7 linked regions of the Homo sapiens genome follow. The protein of the gene in region 4 interacts with the protein of the main gene of each other region in a pairwise test. Each region holds a gene or a part of one and is shown on either strand. Other genes may lie near its edges.

The links.
Region 1: the proteins of CTTN (region 4) and YTHDF3 interact in a two-hybrid assay, tested with the Homo sapiens proteins (one large-scale study listed by BioGRID).
Region 2: the proteins of CTTN (region 4) and YTHDF1 interact in a two-hybrid assay, tested with the Homo sapiens proteins (one large-scale study listed by BioGRID).
Region 3: the proteins of CTTN (region 4) and PRPF6 interact in a two-hybrid assay, tested with the Homo sapiens proteins (one large-scale study listed by BioGRID).
Region 5: the proteins of CTTN (region 4) and NHSL2 interact in binary tests that used the Homo sapiens proteins (3 or more experiments, as listed by UniProt).
Region 6: the proteins of CTTN (region 4) and RSPH1 interact in a two-hybrid assay, tested with the Homo sapiens proteins (one large-scale study listed by BioGRID and IntAct).
Region 7: the proteins of CTTN (region 4) and GTSE1 interact in a two-hybrid assay, tested with the Homo sapiens proteins (one large-scale study listed by BioGRID).

Annotation. Positions count from the first base shown.
Region 1 is NC_000008.11:63,188,826-63,193,193, reverse strand, and holds part of YTHDF3 (YTH domain-containing family protein 3), read right to left. Parts: intron 1-4,368. UniProt on the Homo sapiens protein: Specifically recognizes and binds N6-methyladenosine (m6A)-containing RNAs, and regulates their stability. M6A is a modification present at internal sites of mRNAs and some non-coding RNAs and plays a role in mRNA stability and processing.
Region 2 is NC_000020.11:63,202,399-63,206,766, forward strand, and holds part of YTHDF1 (YTH domain-containing family protein 1), read right to left. Parts: intron 1,410-4,368; coding exon 1-1,409.
Region 3 is NC_000020.11:63,994,560-63,998,927, reverse strand, and holds part of PRPF6 (pre-mRNA-processing factor 6), read right to left. Parts: intron 4,013-4,368; coding exon 3,836-4,012; intron 3,602-3,835; coding exon 3,446-3,601; intron 1-3,445. UniProt on the Homo sapiens protein: Involved in pre-mRNA splicing as component of the U4/U6-U5 tri-snRNP complex, one of the building blocks of the spliceosome.
Region 4 is NC_000011.10:70,404,522-70,408,889, reverse strand, and holds part of CTTN (src substrate cortactin), read right to left. Parts: intron 3,626-4,368; 5' UTR 3,529-3,625; intron 1,593-3,528; coding exon 1,506-1,592; intron 1,373-1,505; coding exon 1,299-1,372; intron 1-1,298.
Region 5 is NC_000023.11:71,917,044-71,921,411, reverse strand, and holds part of NHSL2 (NHS-like protein 2), read right to left. Parts: intron 1-4,368.
Region 6 is NC_000021.9:42,482,725-42,487,092, forward strand, and holds part of RSPH1 (radial spoke head 1 homolog), read right to left. Parts: intron 3,738-4,368; coding exon 3,647-3,737; intron 3,081-3,646; coding exon 2,945-3,080; intron 1-2,944.
Region 7 is NC_000022.11:46,299,327-46,303,694, reverse strand, and holds part of GTSE1 (G2 and S phase-expressed protein 1), read right to left. Parts: intron 1-4,368. UniProt on the Homo sapiens protein: May be involved in p53-induced cell cycle arrest in G2/M phase by interfering with microtubule rearrangements that are required to enter mitosis. Overexpression delays G2/M phase progression.

The sequences.
Region 1 (4,368 bases), on a different chromosome or scaffold from region 4:
GTTGGCCAGGCTGGTATCAAACACCTGACCTCAAGCAATCCATGCGCCTGGGCCTCCCTCCCAAAGTGTTGGGATTACACATGTGAGCCACCATGCCCAGCCAGGCCTCTTAAACTTTCTTTAAAGCATCTTTTGATGGACAGATTTTAATCTAATCAAATGTAGCAGTCTTTTGCAATTAGTGCTGCCTCCCCCAAGGTTGAGTTTAAGAAACCCAACCTTTACCCAAGGTTTCCAAGATATTCACTTGGGGATATAGTACATCCACATACCAGAAGCTTTGAGAAATTCCAGCTAAATACATGACAGATAAGGCCATATTAAAACCAGACACTAATAATGACTTACAACTACTTTTATTTAAAAAAAAAAAAAAAGGCATAAGTAGTAAAGAAAATCCTAGTAAAATACCACTAATTTGTTCTTTTCAATGAAGTGAAGGACCTAGAATAGACAGGCAGCACATCCTTCCTTCAGCACTAAAATGACCAAAGTATTTGAAAGCAGTTATACTGGGAAGTCCAAATGCAAGCACAAGCATATCAAAGAGAAAATCAACAAATGAAAATACAAATTCTGCCTACACAAGGCTAAAAGTACCAGGAAGAAAACTGGACAAAAACACATGGTACCCTATATGCTAACCAGCTAACAAGCAAGGAAAACTGGTTTCTAACACAGTGGTTTCAAACTTAAGGGACAGTCAAATACCTAGCACAACCCATTATACTGGCTTTCCCTTTTAAATCTCCACAGGCTGGTCAATCACTTAACTGGTAAAATCAATTTACAGCATGACTCTCCCATCTCCACATTTGCAAAGAGAAAGGTATATGCAACTAGCATCCAGCAATGAAAGAAACGGGGTGGGGAGGGTAAAAGTACCCATTCTGAGACAAATAACTGAACTCAATGATTCTCTTACTGGTTCAATGACTAAACACAAAAAGCCCAAAGACAGTCCTGAAGCCACCACAACCACAAAGGATATTACAAAATTATGAGTCCAGATGAGTGGCTGTCAGGGCTTAGGCATGGGGGAAGCATGGAAAAACAAAAGGCTAGTATATAAGGGAGGGTTTGGGGGATGACGAAACTGTTCTGTATCCTAACTGATAGGGTGGTTACACAAATCTACATATGTTAAAATTCATAGAGCTGTACGCCCCCGCCAAAAGTGAATTTTATTGTATGATTTAAAAATATACATATTTTAAGTATACACAAATTCTTATAGGAGCCTTATTTACATTACCCCCAAAAGGAAAACATCCCAAATATCCTTCAAAGGATGAATGGAATAGACACAATGGTCATCCATCCATGTAATAGAAAACTACCTAGTAATAAAAAGGAACAAAGAATTGAGTTACACAACGACATAGATGAATTGCAAAGATACCATGCTGAGTGAAAGATAAACATCTTAAAAGATCATATAGTACATAATTTCAATTATGACAATATGGAAAATGTCTTATAGGGACAAACAACCAATCAGTGGTTCAGTAATGAGAGGGAGAGAGAGGGCTTGACTATAAACTGGCTGGTCAAGGAAATTTACAATTTTATTATATTTAATTTTTTTTAGAAGAAAAAAGATATAAAGTTTCTAAAAACATTAAGTACAGAAAGCAGACATAAGTTTTAAACACAGTCTTTTGTGCTCAATAAAATCAAGATGAATTCTAGGATCAAGGGATTCCATTAAGAAAACAGAGTTAAGAGGGGGAGCTGAATGTGATAATAGAAGCAAACAAATACTATCAGTGAAGAATGCAAAACCTCACAAATCACAGAAACAGCACAAATAAAATACACTGAAAAATATGTGAGCAGGAAAATTCAAATCCTCCAAATGAAGAGAAAAAGAATAAAGAACCAACAGAACTCAAGGGCAAAGATTCAACATATTTGTTGACATTAATAGAAAAAAGTGGCCTGCAGACAAAGGATTACAGAAAACAATATTCATATTGTACACGTTTTCACATTTACATTCATAATGTAAAAATAAAGAAAAATCTTTTGTGCACACACCAAAAAAACAGCTATTTACAAACAAAAAATGTAGGCTGGCCTCAGAATTTTCCATAATATAAAACCACATAACTGTAAAGCAAGGCTTATACATAGTACTTTAAGTGAAAAGGCTGTTGACTAGAAAGAATTCTATACCCAGCTAAATGGTTGCTTACATATTCTGACCAAAGACATTTTATGGATCTAAAGGCTTGCTAATAAATAATAAGTTAAACAAGGTTCAAAATAGAGCTGTCAAAGGTGGGTTAGGCATTAAAAAGGGTGGCAGCAACGTGACAAAAGAAAAACTTCAGCTGAATTAAATTTAAAGGAGATTAACTGAGCAATGAATGTGATTCACGAATCACAGAGCCAGCCAGAGTAGGCTCTGACATTCAAGCACAGCCCTGTGGTGGAAGTTTTATAGACAGAAAAAGGAAAAGTGATATACAGAAAACGGAAGTGAGATAAACAGCTGGATTGATTACAGGTTGGTATTTGCCTTATTTGAACAGTTGGCTACATTTGATTCAGCCAAAATTTGGTCACTGGCACAAGAGTAGGCTGCGGTCTGTTTATACCTCCACTTGTTATAGTTCGCCATGTACAGAAAAACCTTTAGGCTGGACTTAAAATATGTAAGGAGGCGGCTTTAGGATAAACTTTATTTAACAAAACAATGAAACAATATAAGGGTAATATTAAAGTTTAAATCACTGTTGTGTATATGGCTACAATATATATAATAATACAGCTACAATATATACCTGTCATTAAAAATTTCCTGAAACAACTACATAATATTAACATACCAAATACATTATAACAAAACCAGGATTAAATTTTCAAGTTTGGTAGAAAAAAAAAAAGACACAGAAGGGTGATTATCTCCTCAGTGGTGGGCGAAAGAAAAGTTGGTATTTCCTTGCCATGTATCCTTTGTCCTAAGTAATCTCATCCCACTTCCATGCTATTAACTGTTTAAGAACAAAAGGTCCCCAAATCTGTGACTCGGACATCTAACTGCCTAATCAGAGATTTTGCTGCCTATATTTCTCAAAGGTATCTTAAAATCAGCACAATCTAAAAATGAAGTCTTAACTTGCATCCCACCTTTCATACCTCAAATCATTTCTCCTGATGCGCTACTTGTAATGGCAGTTACAATATGACCACTTTACTTAACTGCTAAACTGAAAGACTCAGTAGCTACTTTTGATCCCATTTCTCTCATTTCTCATATTTAAGTGGGAGAAAACACAATTATATTCAGCAACCCATCTAAAAGGTTCAGCAGAGCCTTAAAGTCATTTGTATTAATTACTCCAAAGCAAAGTTTCCAACAATCCAACACAGCAATCAATAACTAGCACCAGAATCACCTGGAATGTTTATACTTAAAAAGTACACTGCAAGTTCCTTTATCAAATATACCAAGGGATGGGTCTCGAGAATCTGCAATTTCAATAAACACCCCAATTAACACTTATGTGACTTAAGGTTTGGAAACTACTGCTCTAGGGTCATTATTCCAACACCTTCCCTCTGAGGAATGTTGAAGCACTTCCCTGTGCTGCACACAACCACAAAGACAAGATATTCAGCTTCACACACAGAAACAATCACTGATTTTACATAGAGTTAAGTTACCTCTTTATCTTAATTTCTACATAGGAACAAGCATTCCATAAGAACATGCTTTCCATAGTAACAAGCATTATTTACTGGAGGAGCTTCTAACTTTACCCCTACTAAGTTTCAAAAGAAATTTAAATGTATCCCCTATAGAAAAGCCCATCCATTTTCTCTTTCCACCTAAAAATAGGACCCCAATTTTACGTTACAGTTTGGAAGAGAAAACTTTCCCTAGTTGAACTGACTCTTGTGGCCCTGTGATCAAAGTCTAGCCAATATTTGGGGGGCTAATCCCCATATGGGCCACTCAATAGGATATTTTTAAAAAATAAAAATAAAAATATTCTGGCCAATATAATACAAGGATAAACAGCATGTTTTATTTCAGGAATGTCTCCCTCAATCTTACAGAGGGTATATAACAGAATTAGGAATCAAATTCTGCAAAGCCTCTATTTTGTACAAGTGCTTTAAGTATAAAAATTATAAAAATACTTCAAGAGTTTTATGTTTTAAAAACATATTTTGCCAGGCACAGTGGCTCATGCCTGTAATCCCAGCACTTTGGGAGGCCGAGGCGCACGGATCACGAGGTCAGCAGTTCAAGACCAGCCTGGCCAACATGGTGAAACTCGTCTCTATTAAAAATACAAAAATTTGGCAGGCATGGTGGCGTGTGCCTGTAATCCCAGCTACTCGGGAGGCTGAGGC
Region 2 (4,368 bases), on a different chromosome or scaffold from region 4:
TCTAAGGGCACCTCCTGGGTGTCCCGGGAGTTTGTGACCGGTTTGTTGTCGTTATTCTCCAGCCTGATGTGCCGGAGCTGGTTATTGGGTACATCCTTAACAAAAATCCACTGGACATCAAACTTCCCCTTCCACTTGTCCTGAGACCAGACCCCGGCACTGGTGCCGTAGTCCACGGGGGACTTCATCTCGGCCACCCCACAAAAATGCCCACTCCCATTGACGCTGAAGAGCAGGTAGACGGGCCCCTTGCTGCTCATGCAGCGGAAGGCGCTGTCCAGGCGCTTGTTGCCGTGCTCTGTGCTACACCAGATGGAGTACTTAATGGAGCGGTGGATGTCGTCCTCAGAGTAGCTCTTGATGATGAACACACGCCCGCTTTTCAGATTCCACTCAAACTCTTTCGGGTTGTAGCTGTGAGCAGCCTTCAGTTTTTCAAGGACGGGGTGGGATTCGACGCTGGGGGCAGAATTAGGCTGGACGTTTCCAGGAGAGTTGCTATCGCTGCCAGCCCCTCCGCTCTGCCCAAACGCCGCGTTTCTGTTGCGTGGGGCAACCCAGCGGGTCTGGGGTGGCTGCTGAGGGCTCTGATACTGCGGTTGAGCCAAAGCTGGGGGCTGTGCTGGGAGAGGCTGAGCCACCTGCTGGGGCTGTGGGGCAGCCTGTGGAGAGGGTGCCTGCTGGGGGACTGGGGCCTTCGGCACAGGCCCCTTGTTATCCCAGGTGCCAATGTCCATGTTATGCTTTATGGGTGGAGGGGGCAGCCCACCCCCCATGACAGGCCCGCTCTTTGTTTTCATTTTAGGCTGTGGTTTTGCAGGCTTGCTGGCAATGGCAGCCCACGAGGTCGGCTTTGAAACTGGCATGTTCACATTTGTCCCACCGTTGCCAGAAAGGACACCAGTCAGTGCCACGCTGCTGACGACAGAGCCCACCGTCTTGACGGCGGAGGAGCTGACGTCCCCAATCTTCAGGCCAACCATGCCCTGCTCCAGGCTGTTCATCCCGGGGGCCTTGCTGAGGGTGTCGCTGTGAAAGCCTGGCTGCCCATCAACCACCGTGCCACCCAGGGAGCTCGGGGGGTAGGTGTAGCTGCTCCCATACGCGGAGCTCTGGGTCTGCTGACCTTGAGACCCACTTGTCCCCCATGCTGAGAACGCAGGGTTTTCAGGGAAAAAATTGAACCTGTGCTGATAGATGTTGTTCCCCAGGCCCCCAGGCTGCCCAAAAACAGCATCGTGCATAAAATGATGGTCTCCGTTACTGAGCTGTCCGTAGGTGGTGAGGTATGGAATCGGAGGGTCCCCTGCAGTAGACCACGGAGCCTCATTGAGGGAGTAAGGAAATCCAATGGACGGCGGGTAATAGCTGGACAGGTAGGGGTCGCTCATTGAGGGGTAACTGTTACTCTGCAAAAGCAAACGTGACAAGTTACACCACTTCTACAACACGAGATGCTGAGAATGCCAACCGCCTCTTGCTTAAGCACAGGTGGAGCAAAAACAAAACCTGCACAGCATGGGGCTACTCCTTCCAGAAAGAAAGCTGTAGTCGCCAATGTGAGAACCAAATCAAGACAGAGAAATTAATAACGAACACAAACCAGGGTGCCGTCTCAAAATACGAAGCATCATTGGCAAGGCTCTGAATTCAGGCTAAATGACGAAGCTATGCCTCTCTAGAACTGGCAAGGTAGCAGCCCCCTCTACTCTTACCTGCAAAGGAATCCAGAGGTAGAGGAGTAAACCCCTGCCTGCTGACGACAACGCTTATGACAGACACGGACGGCATCATGGGAACTGAAACAGCTTTGTAAGGCAGAGATATTTCCATTGGCAAACCAGGATGTGCAGGGCCGTGAGGCAGTTTGCTCCAGAGAACAGACCCCAAGCTCGCTGATTACTCAGCAGGCCCTGGGCGCCCACCTCTGGGCCTTGACATTCCTCCTGGGACACTCTCCCATACCTGGACCAAAGCTCTCCCAGAATCCTTCAAGGGTGCTTCAGAGGCTCCTTCCACACACCCTTCCTAGCAGATGGCCCCTGCCTCTAAGTCCAAGGGGGTTCACATTCCCATGATTTCCTGGGCACAGCGTTGGGCTCTTGCAGTAGGCCCCTGCACAGAGGGCCCTGGCTGGCTCCAGCTCCTCAGCCAAGAGAAAGCATCCGAAGTGTGGACTCTGTGCTCCGGGTGCAGAGCAGCCCTCACTCTGGATGCCAACTCACCTGGGCTTCCTTATGAAAACATGTCTGTGTAGTGACTGGAACCTCAGAGAGTGGTTTTAAAGTGACGGAACCATGAGGCAAAAAGGTCTGCTAGAGAAGGTGAGTGCCTGAGTGCCCCATCGTAGGGGTCTCTGAAGAGCTGCCCAGGGCACAAATTTAGACTGAGGGTCAGCAGTTCTGGGACGGCATCTCCTTGGAGAGACTCAACTAAGGGTCTGGTCATGATTGGGTCCCTCCAACACTGCCTTAAAATGACTTTCGTGTGAGGTGTGTCTGTATGTGTGTGCGCACACACACCTGTACACAGGCCGGTGAGACGGGGTCCAGTGTGAGGTAAGAAGGCTCCCACCTAGACGCATCGTCTGAGAGTGCCAAGATGCTATTACAGAAAACAGAGCCGGAAGTAAAACACGGGGCTCTCCAGTCTGTGACGCCCGTTTTTGGATTTTTAGTTTTCCCGCTCCCCGCCCCCCAGTCCCCCAAGTAACCAGAAGGTTCTACATAAAGAGAATATGCTCCAGACCTCATCTCACAACCTCATCCCTGCCACATTGACCTTTCATGTTGGCATCAAAGGCTACACTATGAAGGATAACAGCACCCAGTCGGGGACACCAGGTGGGAAAGTAGCTGAGGCAATGAGGGAGACTGTGGGATCCCAGACAATGAAACAGGCCTGCTTCACTGGAGGGGTGACCACAAGCAGCTCTCCCTGGGGGCAGTGCCCCAACACCAGCCAACACTGGTGGACTAATGAACCAATGACCCGGCCACCACTTCCTGCCTCCTGCTCCCATCCTAGAATACTGAGGGCTTCAGAAATCCAATTTATTTTCTAATTTTCTTCCTGTTGACTTCTCCACTTGTGAGCAGACAATTCCAGAACCCCCCCCTTTTTTTTTTGGGACGAAGTCTCACTTTGTCGCCCAGGCTGCAGTGCAGTGGCACGATCTCAGCTCACTGCAACCTCCGCCTCCCAGGTTCAAGCGATTCTCATGCCTCAGCCTCCCAAGTAGCTGGGATTACAGACACCCACCACCACACCCGGTTAATTTTTGTATTTTTAGTAGAGACAGGATTTCATCATCTTTGCCAGGCTGGTCTCGAACTCCCAACCTCAGGTGATCCACCCGCCTCGGCCTCCCAAAGTGCTGGAATTACAGGCATGAGCCACAGCGCCTGGCCCCAGAATCATCTTTTAAAATGCACTAACTGCTGTTTCCCCGTAATATAAATTTGAGATTCTGGGGGTATAAGAAGACAAGTGGGATGCTATCAGTGTTCCACAAACATGAGATTAATCTGAGCTTATTCTCCCTCAAAACAGTTTCCATGATGCTGGCTCCTTTGCTGCAGCCTTTCCCTCGGGTGCTGCCCTGGCCAACAGGCCCAGACTGGGGGGGTGAGCGAATCAGGGGGGCGGTCTGTGCACAGGACTTGCTCCTCGAGTCACTGGCCGCAGGTGCCTTCAAGGACGGCAGGCAAGGGGACAGTCCCCCCCACAGGGAAGCCAGCCCTCCTCCTCCCATTAGCTGGACACGTGCTCCTCAGCAGCGCTGCAATCACAACACATCTTCCTTCCACGCAAAAAGAGCAGATGGGAAAAAAAGACCTCGATGGCTGTGTGGTATTCTAATCCACTTGGCCCCAACACCAACCAGAGGAGTCAGGCCACAGAAACAGATGCCCAGGGACACTTCTGACTTACACCTAAAGCCTTAACTAAGACAGGACATCACTTACCACATGAAAAAATCCACATTACATGAGGCATGTAACATTCCTGAAAATCCGTTTTAAGTATTAAATGGACACACCTAGCACACACGCTGCACAGACAGAGAGCCCATAAATGACCCATCCAGCTTCCCTCTACCCAAGGTGCAGGGCCTGCAGTTCTAGCCAGTACTCTGCAAATCCTTCAGCTCCAGATCACCACCATTCACATCCTGAGCCACAGAAGACGGTGACGCTAATCAGCTCTGCTGGCAGCCCTAAACCCTCCTGATACTTTCTGTGCTCACCGGGTTCCACGGCCACACAGGCAGGCTGGATACAGTGACCTGGGGTTCTGTGGGCCGGATTTCCATTTTTACCTCAATCTCACTGACAGCCCATTTCCTATTACATCTGCCATCTTTCC
Region 3 (4,368 bases), on a different chromosome or scaffold from region 4:
AACAGCCTTCATTTCACTCAGACAACACCTTGTGATAATAACAAATTTCTTCTGTATGGAAAAAGATCTATTTTTTTTTTTTTTTTGAGATGGAGTCTCGCTCTGTCGCCCAGGCTGGAGTGCAGTTGTGCAATCTCGGCTCACTGCAAGCTCCACCTCCCAGGTTCACGCCATCCTCCTGCCTCAGCCTCCCGAGTGGCTGGGACTACAGGCGCCCGCCACCACACCTGGCTAATTTTTTTGTATTTTTAGTAGAGACGGGGTTTCACCGTGTTAGCCAGGATGGTCTCGATCTCCTGACCTCGTGATCCGCCCGCCTCGGCCTCCCAAAGTGCTGGGATTACAGGCGTGAGCCACCGCGTCTGTCCAAGATCTATATTTTTATTTATTTTTTTGAGACAGGGTCTCACTCTGTCACCCAAGCAGGAGTGCAGTGGCAATCATAGCTCAGTGCAGCCTCCAGCTCCTGGGCTCAAGGAATCCTCCTGCCTCAGCCTCCCAAGATTCTGTCTCTACAAAAAAAAGTGTAATTTTTGACCAGGCGTGGTGGCTCACGCCTGTAAACCCAGCACTTTGGGAGGCCAAGGTGGGTGGATCACAAGATCAGGAGTTCGAGACCAGCCTGGCCAGGATGGTGAAACCCCGTGTCTACTAAAAATACAAAAATTAGCCAGGCGTGGTGGCACATGCCTGTAGTCCCAGCTACTCAGGAGGCTGAGGCAGGAGAATCACATGAACCTGGGAAGCAGAGGCTGCAGTGAGCCGAGATCACGCCACTGCCCTCCAGCCTGGGTGACAGAGCAAGACCCCGTCTCAAAAAAAAATAAATAAAATTTTTATTAAAAAAGAAAGAATAGAAAGCAGGGTCTCTGACAAATATCTGTACACCCGTATTCACAGCAGCATTATTCACAATAGTCAAAAGGTGAAAGTGGTCCAAGTGTCCGTCAGCGAATAAACAGGTCAGCGAATGCGGTCTACATAGATGAGCGAATGCGGTCCACACACACCAAAGAGTCAAGTCTCATCCTGCCTTAAACTGAGAACATGCTGGCCGGGGCGCCGGGGCTCATGCCTGTAATCCCAGCACTTTGGGAGGCCGAGCCACGTGGATCACTGGAGGTCAGGAGTTCGAGACCAGCCTGGCCAACATGGTGAAATCCCATCTCTAACTAAAAATACAAAAAAATCACACTTCTAATCCCAGCATCCTGGGAGGCTGAGGCGAGTGGATCACGAGGTCAGGAGATCAAGACCATCCTGGCCAACATGATGAAACCCCGTCTCTACTAAAAATACAAAAATTAGCCAGACATGGTGGCACACGCCTATAGTTCCAGCTACTCGGGAGGCTGAGGCAGGAGAATCACCTGAACCCAGGAGGTGGAGGTTGCAGTGAGCCGAGATCACACCACTGCACTCCAGCTCGGGTGACGGTGCCAGGCTCCGTCTCAAAAAAAAAAAAAAAAATTAGCTGGGCTTGGTGGTGCACACCTGTAGTCCCAGCTACTTGGGAGGCTCAGGTGGGAGAATCATTTGAACCCGAGAGGCGGAGGCTGCAGTGAGCCAAGACCATGCCATTGAACTCCAGCCTGGGTGACAGAGAGAGACTCTGTCTCAAAAAAAAAAAAAAAAAAAAGAACATGCTGACGCATGCTGCACCATGAGCTAATTGAAATAAGCCTGTCACAGTAAGGTAAATACTGTATGATTCCAGTCATATAAGATCCAGAGAGTAGTGACATTTATAGAAACAGAGAGAACGGTGGATGCCAGGGGCTGGGGAGAAAGCGCACGGGGACTCAATGTTTAACAGGTACGGAGTTTCAATTTGGGAAGATGAAAACAGTTCTGGAGATGAATGGTGATGAGGTTGTATAACAACATGAACATAATTATGTCAGTGAAGGTATGTACAGTCAAGAATGATTAAAATGGTAAATTCTGTGTTACATATATTTTACCACAAAAAAATTACTGTGACAGTTTTATTTATTTATTGAGACAGTCTCACTCCGTAACCCAGGCTGGTGTGCAGAGGCGCGATCATAGCTCATGGCAGCCTCAAACTCCCTAGCTCAAGCAATCCTTCCACCTCAGCCTCTCGAACAGCTGGGACTACAGGCACCACCAGGCCCAGCTATTTCTTTTAGTTTTTGTAGAGACAGAGTCTCACCATCACCATGTTGCCCAGGCTGGTCTTGAACTCCTGACCTCAAGCAATCCTCCTACCTTGGTCTCTCAAAGTGCTAGGATTACAGGCATGAGTGCCTGGCCCAAAAAGTTTTACAATTTCTATGTAAACAAATTTCAGGCTGGGCATGGTAGTTCACACCTGTAATCCCAGCACTTTGTGAGGCCAGCGCGGACAGATCACTTGTGCCCAGGAGCTCCAGCCCAGGTTGGGCAACCTAGTGACACCCCATCTCAACAAAAAATACAAAAATTAGTTGGGTATGGTGGCACATGCCTGTAATCTCAGCTACTTGGCAGGCTGAGGTGGAAGGATCGCCTTAGCCCAGGGAGGTCAAGGCTGTATGTAGCCAGCCATGATTGTGCCACTTTTTGTTTTTGTTTTTGTTTTTTATTTTGAGACAGTCTCACTCTGTTGCCCAGGCCGGAGTGCACTGGTGCAATCTCGGCTCACTGCAACCTCCAACGCCCGGGTTCAAGCAATTCTCCTGCCTTAGCCTCCCAAGTAGCTGGGATTACAGGCGCCCGCCACCACACCTGGCCAATTTCTGTATTTTTAGTAGAGACGGGGTTTCACCATGTTGGCCAGGCCAAAAGTAGTATGTTCCTTCGTGGTATCTGATATGCATATCAGAAAGAGTTCTGTACTTCACTGGTGTCTAGAGCACCTAGTCTCCAGATCAAAGTACACGTTCCATGCAGGGCCACAAGACAATTTACTGAGAGGCAGGAAAAAAACACACTTTTTAAAAAATTATTATTTTATATTTTAAAAAAAGGCCAAGTGCAGTGGCTCACACCTGTAATCCCCGCATTTTGGGAGGCCAAGGCAGACAGATCACCTGAGGTCAGGAGTTCAAGACCAGCCTGGCCAACATGGTAAAACCCCGTCTCTACAAAAAATACAAAAATTAGCCGGGTGTGGTGGTGGGCACCTGTAATCCCAGCTACTCAGGAGGCTGAGGTAGGAGAATCACTTGAACCCAGGAGGTGGAGGTTGCAGTGAGCCAAGATCACACCATTGCACTCCAGCCTCTGAGTGACACAGCAAGACTCTGGGTCAAAATTTTAAAAATCTGCGGAATTATTCAGGCAAAAATCAAGCCAAAAAAAAAAAAAGGAGAAGGAGAAGAAGGAGGAGGAGGAGAAGGAGGAGAAGAAAAAGGAGAAGAAGAAGAAGGAGAAAAAGAAAACAAAACAAAATTAAACTGTCTAAACCTGTCCACAGGAAAATGCTGTGTGACAAACTCACCTGGCTCAGCCTCATGTCCATCAGAGTGTTCCTCGCTTGGCCAATCTTCCTCATGTCCAGCTCACCTGTGCCAGGTGTCATCAGTCCTGGCGTCATTCCACCTGGGTATGGAGTGTTTAGTCCACCTGGATAGGGTGTGTTAAGACCTCCAAATTGCTGGAGGGGAAGAGAGGAAAGGCAAGAATAAAACAACGGTTTGCACTGCATGCCCAAGAAATTTACTCTCTGAAATACTTCCCCAGTGGCCTGACATATGCACAGCTGTGCAGACAGACTCGGCCACAGCATAGCCATGACCTGCAGAAGCATTGAATCCAACACCACCCACCATTCCTGCCACTGATCTAACAGGACTAAATGGGCCACATGTGCCCTTTTTTGGAAGCTCACAGTTTGTCGGGGATCCACTGAGGTATGGTTCTCTCCGGTCTGTAAATGTTTGGCAAAGAAACTGTCAGGAACAGGGGTCAGCTTCTCATAGCGTGGGTTCCGCTGACGTTTATTTCTGGCATCGCCAACCTCGGGGATGCTCAGCCACTCTTCTTCTGTGACTTCTGCCAACTTCCTCTGGAAATATCCAGCCCCCAAAAACATTAATTCTCTGACAGAATTTCATGTGCCCAGGTAGGACCATGCCCTCTCTCACCCCTAGCCTCCAGATCACCAAGCTTTAGAAGGGATTTGGATGCAGCAACTGTTTTTTACTTTTGTTTTGAGATGGGTCTCATTCTGTTGCCCAGGCTGGATTCAGTGGCACAATCACAGCTCACTGCAGCCTCAACCTCCCAGGCTCAAGTGATCCTCCCACTTCAGCTTCTCAAGTTGCTGGGACCACAAGCGTGGGCCACCATGCCTGGCTAAGTTTTTATTTTTTGTAAAGACAGGTTCTCCCCAAGGCTGGTCTCAAACTCCTGGGCTCAAGT
Region 4 (4,368 bases):
ACGAATTCAGGAGTCTGCTTAACGCCATAGCAAATACCCAAGGCTACAGTGGACTCCCAAGTCAGCCCCATTCCAGTCTCTTGTCCTGGGCAGCCGCACGGCCACCGGAGTTCCGAAGCTGCTTCTGTGGAAGGGAGTGTGCTGAGCAAGCCAGAGAGGGACTAAAACTTGTGTATAAAAAGCCACTGGGGGCCAGGTGCGGCGGCACACACCTGTGATCCCAGCACTTTGGGAGGCTGAGGCAGGAGAATCACCTGAGCCCAGGAGTTCAAGACCAGCCTGAGCAACAAAAGCAAGACCTCATCTTTACAAGAAATAAAAGCACTTAGCTAGCCATTGTGGTGTGCGCCCATGGTTCCAGCTACTCAGGAAGCTGAGGTGAGAGGATCGCTTGAACCCAGGAAGTCAAAGCTGCAGTGAGCTATGATTGCACCACTGCACTCCAGCCTGGGTGACAGAGTGAGACCCTGTCTCAAAATAAATAAATAAATAAATAAATAAATCTTTAACAACAAAATAAAAAGCCATTGTGCAGGCTGTGCCTTCTTTTCTGGAGGAAGGACTAAATCTTTCTCAGCTGAAGGGACCGTGGTCAAGCGGGACAGTCTTCCCGGGATACTGAGGCGGTCACCGGGTCAGTGGTGCTGCCTTCACAGCCAGGGAAAGGAGGATCCACTCTGAACCCAGCGTGGCCTAAAATAAAAGTCTGAGCATATTTTAAAAGTTCCTTTTATCTACACTTTCTGACGAAAAAAAAAACTGCCCCAAGAGCTGGCATTTTAGATAGTGCCAAGTGAGAAACAATGACAGGGTTCACTCAGTGCCCAACTCTGGGCTTTCGATAAGAACACAAAGCTCACAGTACCTCACTATTAACACATAATCATTTCCAGATAATAAAAAAAGGGACAGGGCATTTAAGGTCTCAGTTATTCAGACATCTCATACTTTAGAAACCTCTCGCTTGTAAGGTAGAGCTTAGGGACAAATGTTCCCTGATAAAAGCCACAATACTGAGAAGCGGACACTCTAAAATTATAAATACGGAAATTGTTTGCAATGGGAATTTAAAAATTACTGAGCACAGAAGTATCTAAATATACACATATAAACACACACATTACACAAATACACATATATGTGTGTGTCTTATATTCATTTACTGCATGGGTATCAGGTCAAGAAGATAAATGCAGTTTCCACACGGGCTGTCCCTCCACAGATGACCATGGGCCCTGTTGCACCTGGGGCTCCATCCGCAGAGGGGCCCTCGGGAGGGTGGTGGCGACGCCTCTTACTTGATATGCTCCTGGTGCCCGGAGCCCTGCACCGTCTTGGCACCCCATCTTTGCTCCTTCTCACTCACATCATTCTGAAAAGAAAAGCGACCAGTAAATCTCACAGCCTGGATTGTGACACAGACAAACCACCACCCCATCAAAGAAAAACCCAGGAGAGCCACTTCCACTTCATGAAAGAGGAAAGCAAAGGCTGGCGGCTCCTACCACAAAATCAGGGTCGGTCTCCCAGTCATCGGCCCCCGCGTCATCCTGGGCGATGGACACAGCGTGGCCTGCTGAAGCTTTCCACATCTGAAAGAGCAGCCGGGGAGGGTTACGGAGGCCTCAGGGCGCCATCCACAGAGGCCAGCAGATGAGCCCTTTGGCCAAAACTACCGAGATTCTAGGCAACCCAGGAGGACGAGGCTGCAGGACCAGCCAATCCTTCATGATCCATAAGCCTGACTGACAACCACAGGAGTAAAAGAAATTTCACCTCGGGGTTCTAACACTGCCGTCACCTGACGTCAGAAATATACTGGAAATACTATTTGGCTTCACCTTGAGTGAGAAAATTTTCTGGAAAATAAAAAAGTCGTGTGTGCACTTATTTATTCATTAAGAACATATTCCTGTTCTGTTCAATCATATGATGATAGTTTCCAACCAAAAATAAAAGCACCATTTTGGATTATGTATTATAAATATACTAAATGTTACTAATGGTAAATCTCATGGTATGTGTATTTTATCACACATTTTTAAAAAGTGCACCCATTTTGATTTCAAGTGCTTACTGAAACCATAACAATAATTTTCCTAATTCAGACTTACAATTTAATAAATGTTTCAAGTAGTTTATTGGAGAATTGCTTTACTCTCTACTTGGAAGAAAACAGGAATATAAAATGCCACCTTTTCCTCTATCAGGCAGCTCTGCAAGTGGGCAGCCACCTTCTCCCTCAGCCCTTGAAGACTGGAAGGTTTTCTCTGTTATACAGAACAATGGCACATCTGTAAACCCTAACAAGACAATTCTTGTAACTGCAGTGGTAAAATATAAAATTTTAAGGTTTTTTTTTTTTTTTCAAACTATGTATAAAAAGAAGTGATTCCTTTTCCACAGAAATAGTAATACAATTACACATAGGCCACAGAGCAACTGAGAGATTATTTTAAATCAAACAACCATAAGCTGTGCCCAGGGGTCTGAACTGAGGACACCCAATTCACTTTTTCTCAGGTGCCATGTTGGGACTCTAGCGCCCTGAATCAGGACTGGACAAAACCCCTTCGCAGCTTGAGAATGTCCCATCTGGCTCCTCTCCCTCCAGCCTGGCTGGGTCTCAAGTCCAAATCCAATGTGACAGTGAGGGACCAATCAGGGCAGCGTGCTCTCAAATTTCTAGGTGCGACTTTGTCTCTTGGGGAAGAACCGTCTGCCAAGGGGTGTAGCAGGACTAACAGTGCCCCTGGAACCTTCTGTCAATGCCCAAAGCATGGCAAGAATTTCCAGAGTGATCTGCTTTTGCCAGGATTTTAGAAAACAGATGAACTAGAATCTCAGAACGGAAAGGCACAACCAGTCCATCTTGTCCCAACGCGCCCATTTATAAATGAAGCAACGGCTGCAGGAAAGAGAAACGGGATGCTTGGTCTCCGGCCGCCCCATGGCACCATGCTGCCCTGGCGAGGGGGCTGCCCGCCTGCAGGACTTCAGCTGCCCATGGTTCCCACCACTGAGAAGGTGGCTGCAAGAAAGGATGGGAGTCCCTGCAGGGCTGGCGAGGCCACCTTCACCCCCAAGGCAAAGGAGAAAGGCGGCAGGTGTCTTTGCCTGGTACTTTTTCAGGCTCATCGGGGAGAGATTAGCAGAGCACAGTCTCTGCTCATCTTCCCGGACACAGCTTCACCAGCGAGCGGGGTGGGCACTTGCGAGCTTCACAATCCTGTGCCTGGGGGCCCCACCCATGTTCATGGGGTGGGGAAGGGGCCAGATTTCCCCTCAGGGAGGACAGGAATGGTTCTCTTCCTCAATTCCAGAGTTTTCTGCAATTGTCTCCTCTAAGTCATATGCAACAGAAACCTGACTTTATTTTTTAAACAATGAAATTTCCTTCCAGAATATTATCATCTCTCTCCCAGTAAATCCACAGAAACAGCAACCTCCCCCGTTTCCTGTTAAAGGGATTTTTGCCCTTACCATCCACAGGAAAAGAATGTTAGGATGTTCACAATGCACAAGTACCTTTCTTTCCGCTTGGAGATAAAAGGCTGTTCACGAAATTCTGTTTAAAACACAGTAATCCAATGAGGAATTTCCAGGCATTGGGGACTGATTCCGTCTGTAAAAAGATTAAGGGTAAAAAGCTGAGAAGGATGTATGTTGAGCAGCTCCCTGGGCAAACCCTTCTGTGTGGAGATCTTTTTAGAAAACTTCAGAAATCTTCCCAAACGTAACAAGGTTTTGTAATGAAATCTGAGAGGAGGATGGGAAGACTTGCATTTTACTAATAAAAAAGTTCAACAGAGAGAAACTAAAGAAATAAGTTTTAAAAGATTTCTAACTACATGATGACTTTTTGTCTTTTTTGTTTTGTTTTTTTTGAGATGGAGTTTCACTCTTGTTGCACAGGCTGGAGTGCAATGGCACAATCGCGGCTTACCGCAAACTCCACCTCCCGGGTTCAAGTGATTCTCCTGCCTCAGCCTCCCAAGTAGCTGGGATTACAGGCAGGCGCCACCACGCCCAGCTAATTTTCTATTTTTAGTACAGACGGGTTTTCTCCATGTTGGTCAGGCTGGTCTCAAACTCCCGACCTCAGGTGATCCGCCTGCCTTGGCCTCCCAAAGTGCTGGGATTACAGGTGTGAGGCATGGCGCCCGGCCTACATGATGTTTCTTATGAATGCAAACAGAAATTATTGCCTTAATTGCTAGTATGCATTTACTGTTTGCCATAATTCTTAGAGATTTTCACTTTTTATTCATTCTAATTAATGACATTATAAAATAAAATTGTTACTGTGAGCTTTTTAAAACAATAATATAAGAAAAACACTCCTTGAGAGGATCATGATATGGCCGG
Region 5 (4,368 bases), on a different chromosome or scaffold from region 4:
TTTTGCTCTTGTCACCCAGGCTGGAGTGCAATGGCACAATCTCGGCTCGCTGCAACCTCCACCTCCCGGGTTCAAGTGATTCTCCTGCCTCAGCCTCCTGAGTAGCTGGGATTACAGGCATGCGCAACCACACCCGGCTAATTTTTTGTATTATTAGTAGAGACGGAGTTTCACCATGTTTGGCCAGGCTGGTCTCAAACTCCTGACTTCAGATGATCCACCAGCCTCGGCCTCCCAAAGTGCTGGGATTACAGGCATGAGCCACTGTGCCCAACCCCTATGTTCTCTTATAATGTTAAAAAATATATTGGCCGGGAACGGTGGCTCACGCCTGCAATCCCAGCACTTTGGGAGGCCAAGGTGGGCGGATCACGAGGTCAGGAGTTCAAGACCAGCCTGACCAACATGGCGAAACCCCGTCTCTACTAAAAATACAAAAATTAGCCGGGCATGGTGGCGGGTACCTGTAATCCCAGCTACTTAGGAAGGCTGAGGCAGGAGAATCACTTGAACCTGGGAGGCAGAGGTTGCAGTGGGCCGAGATCGCACCACTGCCCTCCAGCTGGGCGACAGAGCAAGACTCAGTCTCAAAAAAAACAAAAACAAAATATATATGTAACCTAACCTCGCATTATTACTGCTTACAATTAATTCATCTGCGAGATCATTTTTTTTTGTCACTTACTTTAATCTAAGTCTGCATCATAGTTCATGCTCATTATCCACAAGTATAATTTGTAAAGGATTGCGTGTTCAAATAAGTCAGGAAACTGGGTCTCTCCCAGCTTTAACATCTATAACAGGAGTTCTTCACCTAAGCTGCACGGTAGAATCACATGGGAACTTTTAAATAGTACTGTTTCTTGGGCCTCATCCCCCAGAAATTCTGGATTTATTGGTATGGGGTGGAGCCACAGCATTAGTACTTTTTTTTTTTTTAACATTTAGGGTAAATTCTACCAACATGTTGTACTGATTACAGAGGACTTTGTTTTAAGCATCACTATATCTTGGTCAATAATATCTATTGGTCTACATAATGATTTTGTATAATTACTAAGAATTTAGCAAAACATTAACAATTTAAAAAAACTCTCTAGGTGCTTTAGATTGGCAGTCAGAGTCTATATGAGTCTACGGCTGTAATTAAAAAATGAAAAATGCAATCAGACATGCAGTGTGAAGGATTCTACCCAGGGAGATGGCTGGATTGCCTGGTGGCCAGGGCATCTTGTAGACACTGCTGAGGTGTGCCTATGTCCTTGAGGCTGCCTGGCTGTGAGCTCAGGTTTTCCTCGCTTCATATCCACGCTGGTGAGAGTTAGGCATGCTGGGCCCTCAGGCAAACTGCCCAGTACTTTACTGAAACACGCTTAGGCCCCATAAGTTCTGTGAGAAGGTGTTTCTTCACCCATAAACCAGGCTGGTTCTGTAAAACTGGTGAGCTCAACCAGGAGCCATGCAGACATCCCAAGGGGAAGAAAACAGAGAGCCAGTGAGACACTTGGACAAGAGCTCTGCCCAAAGGCAGGGGACACTGCCTGGCTATGCGGCTTGCATCCATCCTCTGCTGCTTCATTAAAGTCCCTCCTTGGCATCCCAGCCTGGCAGGTTCTGTGGTCAGCCAGCACCACATATTCTCTGTGACAATAAACATCTCATAGCTGCCTTGACTCTTGGTGGTGCCTCAGCTTCAGTTCCAAAGAATGTTTTCCCCCTTGGTTGGCGAGGCAGTGAACAGATGTCAGTGGGGGAGAATGAAGGGAGGAGTCAGAGGAAAGGAAAATCCTCGGGTTGGGAAAGATGAGCTGACAGCCTCAAAGGCTAGATGCGGCTCCTCCGTGGGCACACAAACATTCTTTACATATTCTGGAAAAGGGAAGAATGGCTGCAATTCATAGCTGTCTAGGAACATTCTTATTATAACTTCATCTTGACAGTACCCCCATCCAGGGATTTCAGCAAGCTTCGTGGAATTTCACCTTCTTAGTATTTAGTGATGGTGTCCATGGTTGCAGCATAGGCACCAGGCATTTCATTAATACATACATTATTTTGGATCCTCACAACAACCCTGTGAACTGGGTAGTATTTAACCCCATTTTACAGATGAGGAACTGTGGCTCAGAGACACTAGAGTCAGATAGTAGGTGCTGGGCAAGTGGGACTTCACCTGGAAGCTGACGATTCCAAATCCAAAGATCCTTTTCCTTAACATGTCATCCATTGTCTTTTCTATTTACTAAAAGTAATAGATGTTGATTGGGGAAATTTTGACAAATACAGAATGGTAGAAGGAAAATACTACCACTCATCCCCATAATCCCATCACCCTGAGATAATCATTGTCAGCATTTTGGCATAGGCTTCTCCAGTTTCTTCTTATGTGTATGTGTCTGTGTGGGTGCTCTGTTTTAGACGATATTGTATATAGTAGTAAATTTTATCTTTGGTTTTTACTCAGCATTATTTTGTGCATTTCCATGTAGCCTTATAATTCATTTAGAGCATAGCTTTTCATGGCTGTATATTAGTCTATCACATAGACCTAGGAAAATTTATATAACCACTCCCCTATTATTGAATGTGTAAGTTATTTTCCTTTTTCTGGCTAATGCAAATAACCAAAAAATGCAGTGGGGGTTCCCTGCACATTTTTCCCCCCACAATATCTGATTATTTCTTTAGCATAAAATCCTGGAAATGGAATTACTGAGTCAAAGGAGACACTCAGTGTATAACAACAAGGCCTGTCTTGCTGACAACTCGGAGATACCACCTCCTGCAAGGGCAGAGAACTGCCCTCCCCCTCAGCCCCCAAGGACAGAGGATGTTAACGTAAGGAGACCTCAATCACCTCCGGGCCTCCTAGTCTGGGGGAATAATTTGAGTTTGGTATTTTTCAGTTACTGGGGATCAGGCTATAAATTGTCAGGCAGCTAATTACACTGTGCTCGGAAGCAAATGATTCCAGTCAAAATAAAAACAGATGATAGATATTTTTTAAAAACTCATCTCCTCTTTGAGTCCATTTTAAAAAAAAAAAAAAAATTCTGATTTTCCCCTTGATGAATTACAGACGATTCTGAAGAATCTATGCTATTCAGAAAGAAAAATAATAATAAAAGATATCGTCAAGCCTCAAATTTCCCCACTCACAGAAAAGCAGGGGCATAAATAATACATTTAGCTTTGGAGTGCAACTGGATACACACAGCCGGGGACACACAGGCAGGTAGACTCTTGCTTTCTCTCTCTTTCTCACTGTGGCTCGGAGCCCCTCCTGCTCTGTCTAGCCTTTTTAGAGGGGCCCAGGGCCTGGCCCTGCAAAGCATGAAGGAGCCGAGGTTGCCTGGGTCTCATCTGCCCAAGGATAATGAAAACTTGAGTGTAGATAAAGAAAATCCACAGTTAGTTAATATTACAACTTCATTTGAACCATGCAGTTTAACCTTCTCAAGACCCTCATATCCAACTCCCTGACGAACAAACAGGATGTGAGGAACTTCCCACCCCACCTCCACCCTGGGGGCTTATTCTGAGTCAGGAGGTGCCTTGCTCCCTCTCCTCCTGAATCACTGGCAGTGAATTCCTCCCCCACACCAGCTCTCTCACATATCCAGGGCTTTGCACAGGCTACTTCCTGAGCCAGGAATTCCTTCCCCCACCTTCTTCAACCTTCAACGGCCAGCTCCAGATCATCCTTCAGAACTCAGACATCACATCTTCCTGGAAGCTTCGCTCAGCCTCTGTCCTGAGTCAGGTGTGCCTCCTCTGCCTTGCCCCGGTAGCCTAGACCTTATCTCCACAGCACTATGGCTCACTGTTCTCCCCACTGGACTGTGGGCCTGCATCCTAGTTCTACTCTGTACCCCCAGAAATCAGCACAGGGCAGGGCCCAGAGTCAAGTACTCAAAGAGTGTGCGATAGCTAGAAAGAAAGAAAGAAGGTATTCAATCTAACAGGTATTTATTAAGTGCCTATTAGGTGCCAAGCATTGTTTTGGGAGCTGGAGACACAACAGTGAAAACAGATAAAGACTACTACCCTCAAGGAGCTTATATCTTATTGAGGAGCTTACATTTTAGAAAGAGAGGGAGGGAGGAAGGGAATGGAAGGGAGGAAAGGAGGGAGGGAGGGAGGGAGGGAGGGGGGAGGGAGAGAGGAAGGGAGGGAGGAAGAGCTGCCTAATTGCTCAAACCTCCCAAGTTAACTGGCTGATACCTAGTGGTCTTGTGCATGACCTCATACAAAGCACTTTACTGCAAACTACCTGTACACTTAATAAACATACCTCCTGTTTGTGGCATTATTAAAGTAGTCTTGACTGTTAAGATTGCCATCCTGTGCCCTCTAACTTGAAAACTT
Region 6 (4,368 bases), on a different chromosome or scaffold from region 4:
ACCATTCTTAAGTGTCAACACCCAGCAGAAAATACAAAATACAAATGTCACCACCACAATACCCACCTCAAATCACCAAATTGGGTAAAGTGTAACATGGATTAAGGAATGCTTTTGTGAACTCGTGGCTGATGGGATTGGAACTTATATGCCCTGTTTTGTTTACTTTTGGAAACTTTAACCACATTTTACTTTTTTATAAAAGTGATGTATTCATTTTCAGAAAACCTCAGTGAATCAGTATCCATAGGCAAACTAGCTACCGATGGAACTACTACTAATATTTTGATGCATTCTTTGTAACTTTGCTTCTAGTATACATGGTTAAATAAAAATCTGATCATAATTATACATACTAACTCATACTCTATTTTTACTGAGAAATATGGCATGAACTACTTCCCGTATTTACAAATATTCTTTCCTAATAACAGTTGCCACCTGGTACTTTATTTCATCTATGGATTGCAACCTATTTTACTCAGTTACTATTGTTGGTATTTGGGATACTGATTTTTTTTTTTTTTTTACAAAGAACGCTCCAGCAAACGTACTCTGAGTTAAAACTTTATGTACGCTTTTGATACCATCCTTAAATTCTCAGAATTTCTGGACAAAAGCATACATGTGCTTTGATTAGATGAGGCTCTAATCGTTTCATTCCCATAACTGCACTTAAGAGTCCCAGATCCTCAAACTCTTGATTTTAGGAGTGTAAAAATGGTCTATTTTTACATGTTTTTTTATATAAAACAACAGGGTCTCACAATTTTAATTCACTTCATTTCAGTTGTTAGTAAGCCTGCATTTTTTTCAAGATTTTTAGCCATTTAAATCACATTGATTGATAAAACACTTTATATATTAAATGTTGCAAATATTCTCTCCCCATTTAACAGTCATCTCTTAGATTTTCTTTACAGCATTTTCTAATCTATAAGAAGTTATTTTTATAAAGCTAAACCTATTGGTTTTTCCTTTCTATTTCTGTTTAGAAAGTTCTCTTTCCTCATTTCAAGGTTAATATTCATCTACATTTTTTTTCTATATTTCCTAGGGTACATTTAAATCTTTACTTCTTCTAGAAAGTATCTTCATCTGTGTGAAGGCAAAACTATTATTTTCCTCCCAAATAATTGTCAAGTGTTCCTAGCACTATGTCTTGACTCCTCCCATCATCCCTTTGTTAATTTGACACGCTTATTGTGTGTGAAATTATTTTATATACTGGGAACTGTCTCTGGACTTCCTAATTTGCTTCATTGGTGTGTGTGTGTGTGTGTATCCTGGTATCACACTGTTTTAATTATTGAAGTTTTGTGGTATTGATAACTTGTCCACAAGGACATGTACAGGGAATTTTCTGAGGAAGAAACACAAACCAGCAATAAACATGTGACAAGATGTTTGACCTCACTAGTAATCAGGGAAGTACACATTAAAACAATGAGATGACATTTTTTACCCATAAGATTGGAAAAGAACAAAAACAACATTAAAGACTGAGAATATCCAACATCGATGAGAATATATGATAAACAGACTCATATTCTATTGGCAAGAGTATAAACTGACACCACTTTTTAGGAAAATGGGCACTACCGATTGTGATTCTAAATGCCAATCCTCAAAGGTTTCACAATTCCATTATCTAACCTACACAATAGTCCCAAATGTGCAAAATGACAAATATGTATCTTTATGTATATTTTTGTATCCTGACACAGTATGATCCTAATTATGTAATTAAAACCCCCAAACAATAATTCTGTGTCAGATGACTGTATTAGAATGTGCTTACATGACACACAGAAATAGTGTGGAAGGATTGGGCCCAGGGTGGTGGGGCAGGATCCTAGTGTTTAAATGCTTTACAATTGGAATGTACTTGTGTATTATTTGTATAATTTAAAGTTTTTTACTAACTAGCAAAACAAAGCCTCCATTTTTACCCCGATTTTTCAGACTGGTTTAGGCTGGACAAGCTGATTGATTCTTCCAGATTCATTTTCATCAAATTCTCTTCCTCTGCAACCACCTTCCCATCTCCTCCAAAAAGACCCACAGAAAGTTTGCTGGGAATTATATAAACAATGTATGGGTTTGAGGGGAATGTGCTGTTTTGATGAAGACTAAAAGTAAAATCTGTGGTTAGGGCATGAATTATACGTAAATGAAAACTGGGTTCTAAGAGAGTCTGAAGAGACTTCGTTGTATCAGCTAAACATTCCCTCTGTCAACTTCTAACACCATCAATTTGCTCCGCAAATTCTCTCTTCAGGGAAAGTTTCTGCTCAACCCCTGATCAAAGCTACCACGATGGCCTGAGTATTAGCTTCTGAATTATTCAAGGTTTCTCTGTACAATAAGGGCAAGAGGAACCACCGAGTCTTCCAAACAGAAACGGCCCACCATGGGTGCTAGAAGCTGGCAAGCCTCCAGACGCAGGGCCAGGCCCTTGGCAGCCTTAATTCCCACCACAACTAGGAGCACGCAGGCTGGCCTGTAGCATGAGGAGGGAGCTGGGGGTCTTCCTCCCCAGGGATGTCGCACCTCCCCTTCCAGGGAAACAAAACCCAAACACCTCTATGCTCAATTGCAGGAAATAGATATTTGGTATCTGATTTACCCATGAGAAGGAATACACACAAGAGGTTCAGATGCCCTCTCGTGTTATATAACAATGCAACAGGTCCCCGCTGAAAGACAGTGGGAATTTGTACTGAGATCCAGAGAAACGGGCCAATCCCTCCCTTCCCCCAATTCTGTGCTCTGTGGGTACCAGAGGCTCAGAGAATGGCACAGCTGTCCTGTTCTCCACATTTGAATAGGCCGGACTCAGTTTTCTCTGAGTTTTTGGTATTCTCTGGTCACACATTTGCACAGGCTGCCAGAGGGGGTTATTTTGTACTTCATTGGCAAATGTCACTTCCCATGGACTTACATTTTTGTTCAAGAACTTGCCCTGGTACCTGTGGTTCAGGTGAATGAGCTCGGCCGTGCCCTCCTGCTGTCCGTTCACCCAGGTGCCAACATACTTACTGCCCGTCTCCGCGTATAAATAGGTGCCTTGCCCATGCCTGGTTAAGACAAGGGGAACATGGTATTTCGTTCCAGCACAGTGAAAAATCTCCCAGGTTTAAAACACAGACATTGACATTGAGGGAGGCCCAGGCTGTTGCAGGCTCACAAGCGATGTAGCTTCTATATCTGTGTCCAGTCAGAAGGTGCCCCTTGCTCAGTGTGCCCCAAGCACAGGACATTGCCAGAGGCACAGAGGACAGGCCAGCTGGACAGAGGCAAGCCTCCTGTGTGTCAGCTGCTTTCCCCAGGGAAGAGGCAGAGCTAGTGGGAGCTGTGGCTCAGGTCCCCCAGTGGCTCTTCTGTGCCCTCCACTCCCTGGGACTCTTGGGTGAAAGACTCACGTGCTCTGCCCCAACTGAGGTGCAGATGTCAGATACTTGAGTCTACACTTGCACAGAAAGGCATCCTTGCCTCAAAGCCATAGAAAGATTGGACCTGCCTGGCAGAGTTGGTAACTGGGCTTTTGTTATGATTCTGTTCCTCAGTAAGTGTAAACAATCTGCAGACATCATGTTCTCATTACATAAGCAAATCCCGTTAAGACCCAAGATAGAAACCGAACCTTTGATGAGCAAACCACTCTCCAGTGTAGGTGTCATTATTGATGTAGTAGTATACGCCATGGCCGTGCCGCAGGTCATTTGCCCACTCTCCTGAAAGGAACAACACAAAGGCAAGCCCAGGTGAGAAGAAGGGATCGATGCCCTGTACCATGTCTTCAAATTGTTAACCATGGCAAAGGCAGATGTGTTGTGAAGCAAATGAAGCCCATGCACACACAGGCCCCTTCTGCTCAGGAAATCCTGCAGAAGAGAGATTTTTAACAGCACCGACCAAGGCTGCTATCTGTTTCCACTCTGACATCCCTCCACCCCTTCCTTTTGTGCCAGATGGCATAGGTGCTGAGCCACGGTGGACAGTGGGCTAAGAGAGGGCTGAGTCAGGAGTTCACGGGGTACAGAGTGAGGTGTATGGATGTGGGCCACAGCCACCTGCATGTACTGACAAGCACATTTCACAGGTTAGTCAGAGGCACCACGAAGATGCAACGAGGAGGGAGACAAACCAAGGTTGTCTGACCCATTGCCAGTGATCCTAACACCACACTTCATTTACCTTGCAAATGTTTAGAGATCCAGCAACAACTCCAGGGCTTGACCATCTATCCTCAGCCACCTGGCAGCATTTCAGTCTATCTCCCACCCAATCATCTGACTCCAACATGCCACTCTAACCCCAGCTGCACACCAGCTCCATCCGCTGGTGCCATGCCTCTGTTTGAAC
Region 7 (4,368 bases), on a different chromosome or scaffold from region 4:
TAGCACACCTACGACTACCATTTACTTGGAAATTAACCCATAACCCAGTATCGGACTTAATGAAAAACCACAGAAGCAATTCCATTAAAGCCAGGCACGTGGCAATGACATCTCCAAGCACAATTCTTAACACTGTTCTGGACACATAAAGCAACACAGTCAGGCAAAGGAAGGAATGTGGAGGTAACATGATCACACTGCACAGATGCCATGATTATAGACACGAGAAACAAATCAAGAAGATCAACTGGAAACTACTATAAGTAGTAAAAGGATAAAAGAACATGGCTAAGGACAAAATCATTACAGAGCAATCAACAGCTTTCATATCTACAAAGAACAGTGAGAAGATAACATGGAAGAAAATACTTCGTTTCTAGCAGCAACGAAAGATGCAAAATAACGATAAACAAACCTAACAAGAAATATGCAAAATGGATATAAAGAAGACTTGGCATATCATAAAAGTAACATATCAAATAAAGAGGGAAAGTAGACCGGGCAGGGTGGCTCACATCTGTAATCCCAGCACTTTGGGAGGCCGAGGAGGGTGGATCACAAGGTCAGGAGATCGAGACCATCCTGGCTAACACGGTGAAACCCCATCTCTACTAAAAAATACAAAAAATTAGCCGGGTGTGGTGGCAGGTGCCTGTAGTCCCAGCTACTTGGGAGGCTGATGCAGAAGAATGGCATGAACCTGGGAGGCGGAGCTTGCAGTGAGCCAAGATCACGCCACTGCACTCCAGCCTGGGTGACAGAGCAAGACTCCAACTCAAAGAAAAAAAAAAAAAAAAAAGAGGGAAAGTGAAAAAATGGTATTAAAATAAACTACATAATCATCTGGAAAAATGCCAACTAAGTTTGGTCCATGCCTCACACCACATCAGGCCTAATTCCAAACAAATCAAGGACTTAATGGAAAAAAAACAAAGCCCTAAACAAACAAGAATCAGCTATGAGGAAACTTTTGTAACTTGGGAGTGTGGACTTCTAACTATGACACTAAACTGGAAGCTACCAAAGATTGGTCGGCTGGGCCCAGTGGCTCACATCTGTAATCCCAGCACTTTGGGAGGCTGAGGTGGGAGGAACGCTTGAGCCTAGGAGTTTGAGACCAGCCTAGACAACATAGGGAGACCTTGTCTGTACAAAAAATACAAAAATTAGCTAGGCGTGGTAGTCTCAGCTACCAGGGAGGCTTAGGAAGGAGGATCGCATGAGCCTGGGAGGTCAAAGCTGCAGTGAGCCACAATCTCGCCACTACACTCAGGCCCAGGCAACAGAACAAGAACATGTCTCAGAAAATAAATAAATAAAAAATAAAAGATTGACCTTCAAACATTAAAATTTTAACATCTCTGTGTGGCAAAAATCACAATAAGTTAAACAAGAAATGGGGAAAAGAATATTTGCAACTCAGTTCATAAAGGGCTAATTCATGAAGCATATCTATAAAGTAATAAAAAATTAATAATCTAATAAAGATAGAAAAAGGATACAAACAGATAAAGTTCACAGAAAATAAAACAAAACATTCTTTTTTATTTTTCTTTATTTACTTTTTTTGAGACGGAGTTTCACTCTTGTTGCTCAGGCTGGAGTGCAATGGCGCGATCTTGGCTCACCGCAACCTCTGCCTCCTGGGTTCAAGCGATTCTCCTGCCCTAGCCTCCCAAGTAGCTGGGATCAGTATGAACCAGCATGTCTGGCTAATTTTGTATTTTTAGTAGAGACGGGGTTTCTGCATGTTGGTCAGGCTGGTCTGGAACTCCCGATCTCAGGTGATCCGCCCACCCTGGCCTCCCAAAGTGTTGGGATGACAGGCGCAAGCCACCGCACCTGGCCGAAACATTCTTAAATAGATGGCAAGAAGTTCAGCCTCACTCAAAAATAAGAGTAATGAGGCTGGGCGCTGTGGCTCCCACCTATAATCCCAGCACTTTGGAAGGTCGAGGCGGGTGGATCACCTGAGGTCAGGAGTTCGAGACCAGCCTGGCCAACATGGTGAAACCTCATCTTTACTAAAAATACAAAAAATTAGCCAGGCCTGGTGGCAGGTGCCTGTAATCCCAGCTACTTGGGAGGCTGAGGCAGGAGAATTGCTGGAACCTGAGAGGGGGAGTTTGCAGTGAGCCGAGATCGCACCATTGCACTCCAGCCTAGGGGACAAAAGGGAAACTCTGTCTTAAAAAAAAAAAAAAAAAGTATTAAAAATAAACTTGCTCTGAGAATGCAGTTTTCGCCTATATGACTGGCAAAACTCAAAGATGTATGAACTATAGGCAAGGTTGTGGGGAAAGAGACAATTTCTACACTGCTGGGGAAGGTGTAAATTATCACAGCTCTCTAGAGGGCCTGGCAGTACCTATCGAAGTAAGAAACACACACCCTCTTCGACCCAGCAAGTCTACTTCTGCAAGTGTATCCTACAGACACTCACAGGTGTGGAAAGCAATGTGTTGTGCAGTTACACGGTGTCCACAGTTATTTACTGCAGCATCATTGGTAACAGCAAGACTCTAGGCACAAACTAAATGTTCACCCACAGCAGATGAGATGAATGACATATCCCCAAGGTGGAACCCTATATAGGTACAAAAGCTAGTAATGCTCTTCATGTGTTGATACACAATATTCATCAAGATAAATTAAGCCTGAAAAACAAGATTCAGGACAGGGCTCTCCATGCTATATGGAAAGGGGGATGCAACACTCTATGCGTGTTGGCTTGCACCTGCACAAATTATGTCTGGAAGGATACCCAAGAGACTGATGACATCGATGGCCCTTGGAAGGGCAAGTAGGTGACTTAGAGATATAGAGAGGCAGACATTTCACTTTTTACACCTCTAAATTAGGAAGTCAATTTCAGAAACTTCTAATGGTCTGGCGTGGAAAAAGAATCCAGGACCAGAACTCAGGGAAGCAGTCTTCTGCTCCAGGCTCTGTGACTGGCTCCGAGGGGTCCCGGGCTGGCTGACTTGCTCATCCTGCAAACACATGAGCACCCACAACAGACCACATCCTTCGCTAGGTGCCAGGCAGGCTTGGGGTACATGCAGCCCACCCTGGAGGGTGCCTCAGGCAGTGCGGTGAGAGACATGTAGAGGTGGGAACACCTCTGAGAAAATATCAAAGCGTGTGTGAGAGGAACGGGTCAGAAGTCAGAGTGGCTGGAAGAGGTGAAAACACAAGTTGGGTCAGATCACAGAGGGTTTGCAAGCCATGGCAAGGAGCTTTTATTTTCTCCAAAGTGGGATAGGAAACTATTACCGGGCTTTAAGAAAAGAATTTTAGGCCTGGCGTGGTAGCTCATGCCTGTAATCCCAGCACAGTGGTAGGCTGAGGCAGGCGGATCACTTGAGGTCGAGTTCGAGACCGTCCTGACCAACATGGTGAAACCCCGTCTCTACTGAAAATACAAAACTTAGCTGGGCACGGTGGCTCATGCCTTTAATCCCAGCTACTCAGGAGGCTGAGGCAGGGGAATCACTTGAACCCAGGAGACGGAGGTTGCAGTGAGCCAAGATGTCGCCACTGCACTCCAGCCTGGTGACAGAACGAGACTCCATCTCAAAAAGAAAAAAAAGGCTGAGCACAGTGGCTCATGCCTGTAATCCCAGCACTTCCGGAGGCCCAGGCGGGCAGATCACGAGGTCAGGAGATTGAGACCATCCTGGCTAACACAGTGAAACCCCATCTCTACTAAAAAAAAAAAAAAAAAAAAAAAAATTAGCTGGGCGTGGTGGCGGGCGCCTGTAGTCCCAGATACTCAGGAGGCTGAGGCAGGAGAATTGCTTGAACCCAAGAGGCGGAGGTTGCAGTAAGCCGAGATCACGCCACTGCACTCCAGCCTGGCCAACAGTGAGACTCTGTCTCAAAAAAAAAAAAGAAAAAGAAAAAAGAAAAGAAAAGAGCTTTATAATCTAACTTGTGTTTTTAAAAGGTGACGTTACTGTGTAGAAAGTGTATCCGAAAGGAAGCAGATAATATCCCCTGACATTACAAATGCACATATTAGCCAACGGGAAGTAGAAGCCGGTGAGACAGCGTGGCTGAGACCCAGACAGCAGCATGTGGATGGAGATGGAGAGTCTGTAGATGGATTCAGGATATCTTCTGAAGGTGGAGAAGACGTTAGCTGGTGATGGCATGAATGTAGGAGGTTCTCAGCTTGCACAGCTGGGTGAAATGGAGAAATAAAATGGGTGATGAGAAAGACAAAAAGAACAGGGTATGCAGATGCAGAGGGGGTATGCCAAGTTTGAGATGAGACGTGCATGTGAAGACGCCAAATAGGCAGGTGAATATACAAGCCCAGAGCTCGGAGGAGAGGCTGCGCTCAAGACAAAACGTGGGTGCCGC